2 linked regions of the Homo sapiens genome follow. The protein of the gene in region 1 purifies or fractionates together with the protein of each later gene. This does not show direct contact. Each region holds a gene or a part of one and is shown in the gene's direction. Other genes may lie near its edges. The genes, in order: MPDZ and KIF14.

Region 1 (3,814 bases):
CTTAGGCTTCAGTATAGTTGGAGGATATGGCAGCCCTCATGGAGACTTACCCATTTATGTTAAAACAGTGTTTGCAAAGGTAAGCTTGCAAATTTTAACCACCCTCTTTTCCCCTAAACATTCATTAATAGTGGTCAGCAGCTGGCTTATTAGTTTATGGCCTGAGGTAATGCCAAATGGTTAACAGTTGATCATTTCTTTTCAAAACTCCCTACAGGAACAGGTCATTAAATATTTTTGTCCAATTTGAGGTTTCATTATATTTAAAGGAAAATAGGCTCAAATTGAAACTCCATGGAAACTCAACAATATACATAAAAATATTAATGAACTTTGGTTAGTAAAGCCTATTTTTTTTTCTTTGAACACAAATTGCACATGATCGTCTTTTGAAAATGGGACATTTTAAATAAGTATGCTGTAGAGCACTGGTATTTCTGTTTGCATTTTTTTGTTGTGAAATATAAAATAGTTATAGAGAAGTACATAAAGTACACATGAAAATTAATAAGCATTTATTTTATAAATTTAATTTCATTGAATAAAACAAAAATAACTACTGAAAAAATGTAGGGAGTATCCAGCAGCCCTATCATCTATAATAAGTCAGCGATTTGCAATCAAGGGATTCAATTAAAAAGACTGTATAGTTATAATTATATAATACCTATTCTAGCTTAAGAAGGTTTAGAATAAGAATAAAGATATTGCAGTACTGGTAAAGCTATTAAAATAATTTAAACCCATGTAATTATTGTTAATATGTTAAGTCGTTTTTCAGGGGCTACAAAATTCGACAAGATTTTCTGCAGGGAAAAATTTAGAATCTCAAAATTTTACAGTGTCAAAAGAAACAAAACTTAGTCAAACGTGTTTAAAAATTTGATACAGGGCCTTTGGATTAGTGGTATAGTTCTTTATGGATATTTTATTTTATTATTTTGGAAAAGATCTTTTTTTTAGCCAATTTAAAGTGTTGTACCTACAACAAGCTAGCTATAGGCTTAATTTATAAGATTTTTAAAAAAGCTATCGGTATGTCCAAAAATACAAACAGCATTTGCTAGTGAATAGAAGAGTCATACAGTCCTTTTCCTCAGCCTAGGAACAATTTATTTAAGGCATGCTAGTTAGAACATATTTTAAGAATTTCATCATTATGGATTCCTCATTAACTTTTCCATATTTTTAATTTTATATTTAATTGCATAATTGTCTTCTATAAGCGTGCTTTAAGATGGGGTTCTTTTTCTAACACCAATGTCTGTATTTAATCTTAATCATTTAGGGTCCATAAGGAATATGAAGAATCTCTCTACCCTTGGGAAGTAAGAACTAAGACAGCTTGAATAGCTTTTTCAAAACCACAAAAAGAAATAGCAGTGGGTTTTAAATTTAGAACTTATGCCTTATCCTGCCATAGGGAATGTTCAGGTGGCTTTGTGCTTTTGCAGACCTTTGGATTTTGTCATCCCCCAAGCCCTTGTCCTGTAAAACTGTTTTTGTTCCTACCTAATCCTTTACCTTCTTTCTGTAGGTCTTATTTACAGGATAGAAAATCCTGGATTCTATTGAATCATTCCTACTAGGCAAATTCCCAAATATTCTTTATTAATTTGTGTTCCCACCAACTGCTGTGCTGAACAGCCAAAAACCCATCCAACTGATCTATCGACTGCTAAATTCTCTCTCAAATTGGTATCTCAATGCTAAAACCATTTAGGAGAAAGACCTTCTTTGTCTATGTTCATCATTGCTTAATGGCTTAGAGCACCCATGGAGCACTGGGAGCAGTGTGTGTGTACAAGCAGAGCAATTTACATTCCTGTTGAGATCTTTTTCTGTTGTGAGTTGCAAGGCAGCATTTTTTGAGAAATAAACAAGTCTACTTTATAATTTGCAGGGAGCAGCCTCTGAAGACGGACGTCTGAAAAGGGGCGATCAGATCATTGCTGTCAATGGGCAGAGTCTAGAAGGAGTCACCCATGAAGAAGCTGTTGCCATCCTTAAACGGACAAAAGGCACTGTCACTTTGATGGTTCTCTCTTGAATTGGCTGCCAGAATTGAACCAACCCAACCCCTAGCTCACCTCCTACTGTAAAGAGAATGCACTGGTCCTGACAATTTTTATGCTGTGTTCAGCCGGGTCTTCAAAACTGTAGGGGGGAAATAACACTTAAGTTTCTTTTTCTCATCTAGAAATGCTTTCCTTACTGACAACCTAACATCATTTTTCTTTTCTTCTTGCATTTTGTGAACTTAAAGAGAAGGAATATTTGTGTAGGTGAATCTCGTTTTTATTTGTGGAGATATCTAATGTTTTGTAGTCACATGGGCAAGAATTATTACATGCTAAGCTGGTTAGTATAAAGAAAGATAATTCTAAAGCTAACCAAAGAAAATGGCTTCAGTAAATTAGGATGAAAAATGAAAATATAAAATAAAGAAGAAAATCTCGGGGAGTTTAAAAAAAATGCCTCAATTTGGCAATCTACCTCCTCTCCCCACCCCAAACTAAAAAAAGAAAAAAAGGTTTTCTAATGAAAATCTTTAAAAATACTGTCAGTATTTTAAAATTTTCAACAGTATTATAAAAACATTGCATCTCCCCACCTCTAATATGCATATATATTTTTCCTGCTAAAATTGGTTTCTACAATTGAGTAAATGGCAAATACATGAAGCAATGTCCCTAAATTTTATAAAGAAATTATATTTAATGCACATTTCAATTTTCATTCTTATTTTTGACCTTTTGTAAAATATTTTCATGTTGCTATAAGTAAATGATGATGCCACCCCATGTTGACTATGGTTTTTCTAGAAAGCAACTATGCTGCTAACCATAGAGGAACATAGAAGGGTTCCAGAATCTTTAGTGCTGGTTTTAACAACCGATGCAACATTAAAAATGTGTTAGTGTGCTGTGCAATTGGTTTTCAATTCATATTAATCTTAATGACAGAGAACAATGTGTTACTAATTATTTTGGTTGTATGCCATTAGTAAATTGATAGAAAAATTAAGGGGATTAACATAACTTCATTTCATTGACTTATATTAACATCTTATAATACAATAGTTTAAGACTAAGGGAAACAGATGGAGCTGTTTATTGAGACAACTGGTGAGGAATTATCATGTGTTCATTCCCATTTTAGAGCGTGAAACTCCTACATTAGAATATATAAAGTCACTTTAAATATCTATATTTGTAACAGAAGTAGTGTACAGATATTTTATTACAGCATTTTTGTGTAAATGCAGAATTAAAGTGAATAAATAAGAATTTTCAGTGGTGCACAAATAAGCAGCAAGCATTTTTTTTGTTCTTTTTACTGTGGAAAAGCTTTGTTATATACTGTTCAAGATTTACAACTTAAAATTGGTTTTTATCATGTCTAACTGCACATATGGTGTCCATAGTTACAGCTAAAGGAACTTTGGACAACATCATTATGGAAAGCTTAATATTTTTTACCTCCACAATTTTTTCTAGCACTAAAGATTCATAGACTCCTCATAGATGAGAGGAAGATGACATTGTAGAAAGAGAAGTATCCTGCCTGTATATGTTTTTCTCAAATGCTGTTAATGCAGTAATATTGTAAGTTGCTCTTTTGTGTGGTCAAGAACTATTCAAGTGTATTCAGATGGACAAAATCATAATCAAAATTATTTGTATTAATAAACATGACAAGTCCAACTTGAACACTGAGCAAGGAATGAGGGGAACTCTGTTCTACTAGTTTTGTACCAAATTAGCTAACAAACGTGCATTTCCCTCTCATTCATCTTATCTGTAAAATGATA
Region 2 (4,080 bases), on another chromosome or scaffold:
TGAAAATTTTTATTTAAATAAATGAGAACTATTATAAAGTTGAGCTCTTAAAAATGAAATAAATGTATCTTTTAAAGTATTGAATAATAAATGGCACTGTTACTTTATTCCATTCTCATGTAATAGGATGACAGACTTTGAAAATTAATTGAAAATTCTGATTTCTTTTGAAAACAGTAATTACTATTGTATTTTGGTCTTGCTTATAGAAATAGAGTTAAGCACTGGTGAGGAAATTAAACTCTCTTTCTTAAAGAGAAGATTCTGGCAATTAAAATCATATTGACTGAGCCTTACTGCCATTGAGCCTGTTAATGTATTATTTTAAATATTAACTTTATTTATACAGAAAAGTTTCAGAAGGCAAGTACAAGAAGAAAACTTTGAATACCAAGATTTCAAGAGGATGGTTAATCGTGCTCCAGAATTCTTAAAGTTAAAACATTGCTTAGAGAAAGCTATTGAAATTATTATTTCTGCACTGAAAGGTATGATTCTCCAAATGGAGTTTATAATCAGAATTTTATATTTTAAGGAACCTTAGACATCTTTCCTTTTTTTTTTTGAGATGGAGTCTCGCTCTGTCACTCAGGCTGGAGTGCAGTGGCTCGATTTCAGCTCACTGCAACCTCCGACTCCTGGGTTCAAGCGATTCTCCTGCCTCAGCCTCCCAAGTAGCTGGGATTACAGGCATATGCCACCATGCCTGGATAATTTTTGTATTTTTAGTAGAGATGGGGTTTCACCATGTTGGCCAGGCTGGTCTCGAACTCCTGACCTCAAACAATTCACCCACCTTGGCCTCCCAAAGTGCTGGGATTACAGGCATGAGCCACAGTCCCCGGCTGACATCTTTCCTTTTTATTTCTAACCTTTTCATTATTTTAGTCATTAACTGAAGCCTACCCAATGCTACTTCACTGATATTAGTTACCCATATAGGAACTTGTATTTATAATTAAATTCCCACTTAATGTATGTATCAGTACTTCTACCTAAATAATTAGATCCTGAAAAACCAAGTGCTCATCTAGCAAATAAACACTTTAGTTGACTAATCTTAAGTAGTTTGGAATTGTTTTGATAGGGTCACTTTGACTTAAAAGATATCTAGAGTCTATAAAAGTCATAAATACCTGATGAAAACTGAAAAGGCTAATTAACTTTTCCCTCCTCTCTTGCATATAGGATGCCATAGTGATATAAATCTTCTCCAGACTTGTGTTGAAAGTATTCGCAACTTGGCCAGTGATTTTTACAGTGACTTCAGTGTGCCTTCTACTTCTGTTGGCAGCTATGAGAGTAGAGTAACTCACATTGTCCACCAGGAACTAGAATCTCTAGCTAAGTCTCTCCTCTTTTGTTTTGAATCTGAAGAAAGCCCTGATTTGTTGAAACCCTGGGAAACTTATAATCAAAATACCAAAGAAGAACACCAACAATCTAAATCAAGCGGGATTGACGGCAGTAAGAATAAAGGTGTACCAAAGCGTGTCTATGAGCTCCATGGCTCATCCCCAGCAGTGAGCTCAGAGGAATGCACACCCAGTAGGATTCAGTGGGTGTGAATACTGATGTGTAGGCACTTTTATGACCACCCATGAAAGAAAAAGAACACTTGCTCGGTAATTTTCTTTATGCAGGAGAGTTTAAGAGAAATCAGCACAGATATTTCAAAAAAGTCCATGTCTTTTTATCTTTAAAATATCTATTTATCAAAGGCCAGACACAGTGGCTCACGCCTGTAATCCCAGCACTTTGGGAGGCGGGCAGATCACAAGGTCAGGAGTTTGAGACCGGCCTGGCCAACATGGCGAAACCCCGTCTCTACTAAAAATACAAAAATTTGCTGGGCATGGTGGCGCGTGCCTGTAATCCCAGCTACTAGGGGGGCTGAGGCAGGAGGATCGCTTGAACCTGAGAGGCAGAGGTTGCAGTGAGCCAAGATCATGCCACTTTACTCCAGTCTGAGCAACAGAACGAGACTTAGTCAAAATAAATAAATAAATAAATAAATAAATAAATAAATAAATAAATAAAATATATTTTTATCTTTAAAGTGTTTAACATTGGTATACTGTCTGTAGTTGGTTCATTAGTCGTTTATAAAGGGTTATTTTCTCATGAGTGGAAACCTGAACAATCAGTTACCTTTGTGCCTATGCCTTCTCTCTCCTCAGACAGCTGGGATGTTTATGGTGAAATGGCCTGTACAAGTTTAACTAAGACAACTTAACTTGCATTGTTAATCAAAAATTCTTTTCTCAAAGGGTTAACTGGTTGCCATTTTGAATAGTATGTTCAAGGGTGTAGCTTCCTGTTTCTTTCCAAATTATAAGTAGCTACCTAAATATAGTATAATTATATATTAATAATATGGCTTGCTGGCACAGTAGTTTACCCTGTTATCTGTGTTTCATAATGGGGGCTGTATGAATATTATTTAAAACTAATAAAATGTTGCCAGAATTATACTAAACTGTTGGATGAGATTAGGAGATCAGAGGCTGGACCTTCTCTTGATAATGCTTGTTTTGTTAAAGGTATAATGAAATAATTTGTATATGATTTGATGAAGATTAAAGACCCTTATTTTCCACAGCTTTAAAAAAAAACCTTTATTTATGATCAAGTAATAAAGATAATATTCTACTTGTGGGATCTTACATTACGGAAATAGTTTGACGTTTTTGACCTCAAGAGTATGTATAATTTGAAGAGATACTTTGTAACTATGCTTGGGTGATATTGAGCAGTTCCTAAAGAATAATTCATTTAAAAAAAAAGAAGAAAAAAAAAGAAGAATTCATTTAAATAACCTGATCCTTTCATTTGCCCTTTTCGAATTTACAGATACTACTTGTACATTTGGCATAACTAGTTGAAATTGGCCATTCGTACCATGAATAAATCTGATAGTTTCCTTGTTAGGAAGAGATTGTAAGTAAATACAGTCATTGCAGTCAGAACAGTATTAGTGAACCTTGTGTGGTGTTTTCAAGCTCTTTAAAATGGTACAATGTAGCACATTTGCTTTCATTTCTTTTTTTATTTTTGGCATTTGACCTTGTATTCTTTCTGAAGCTCTATATGTGTTTTTATTAGTCAATAATCTGGCAAGTAGCACTTTGCCTGTGCAGTTTGCTGGAGTGTAGATGTACATATGAGGATTTCCCGGGAGGTGCACTTCTTTGAAGAACTTCCTAAAGTACCTGTATAGTAGTTTTCATCTTAATATTCAGTATTTAATCTTCAGTTTGTGCTTTGTAAACTCATGACTTAATTGGTCAGAAACTTTTTAGTGTCTTTATAAAATTTTGTATACATATTTATACTAAACACATTGTGATACTGTATTTGAATGAATGGTGAAAAAATATTTGCTATTGGAATTATGTGCACTGACAAGAAATGTTATAAAGAGAATGCCTTTAATAAATCTTTTCAGCATTAGAATTGCTTCGTGGTCTATGCTTTTTTATTTTACTGATTTTCTTTGTTTATTTTACTCTTCATTCAGAATAGCTCTGCCTTGATAATAGCTAGGCTAGTGTTGCAAATCAAGTTAATAATTAGGAAACACTAAACAAATATTAATATTGCCATAACAACTATTTTTTTTTAACATTGTTCTGCCTCTCTTTAGTTGATTATGCCTGGAATAGATTTATCACCATGTGGTATGTGTAAAGAGCATGAGCTTTGGAGTTTGACATATTTTTCACACGTTTGGAGTGTGAATCCCAGCTGGACTGCTTAGTAACTACATGACCTTAGACATGTTACTGTCTTCACTCCCATTCCTTCATCTGCAGAAAGAAAAGTAATACCCACCTCATGGACTATCTATCTATGAGCACTTAGTGAGAAAAATGTGGGAATAACTGCTGGCAAGTAGTAGACTGTTAGTGAATTTATTTTCTGTCCTTTTCATTACCAGCTACAAAACCCTTGTTATGTATATAAGATCACACTTGGTGCAGGCATATGCCATTTATAACATTCTGCCAATGTGCCAAATTGTATTGCAGTCCTTTATGGCATACCTGAAAATATATCTGCCGTCATTTTGTTCCATGA

Evidence for each region.
Region 2: the proteins of MPDZ (region 1) and KIF14 purify together in Homo sapiens (affinity purification with mass spectrometry; 2 studies listed by BioGRID and IntAct, with this or other methods). This does not show direct contact.

Annotation. Positions count from the first base shown.
Region 1 is NC_000009.12:13,105,201-13,109,014, reverse strand, and holds the end of MPDZ (multiple PDZ domain protein), read left to right. Parts: coding exon 1-79; intron 80-1,903; coding exon 1,904-2,050; 3' UTR 2,051-3,308; downstream 3,309-3,814. UniProt on the Homo sapiens protein: Member of the NMDAR signaling complex that may play a role in control of AMPAR potentiation and synaptic plasticity in excitatory synapses. Promotes clustering of HT2RC at the cell surface.
Region 2 is NC_000001.11:200,550,876-200,554,955, reverse strand, and holds the end of KIF14 (kinesin-like protein KIF14), read left to right. Parts: intron 1-349; coding exon 350-488; intron 489-1,188; coding exon 1,189-1,568; 3' UTR 1,569-3,456; downstream 3,457-4,080. UniProt on the Homo sapiens protein: Microtubule motor protein that binds to microtubules with high affinity through each tubulin heterodimer and has an ATPase activity. Plays a role in many processes like cell division, cytokinesis and also in cell proliferation and apoptosis.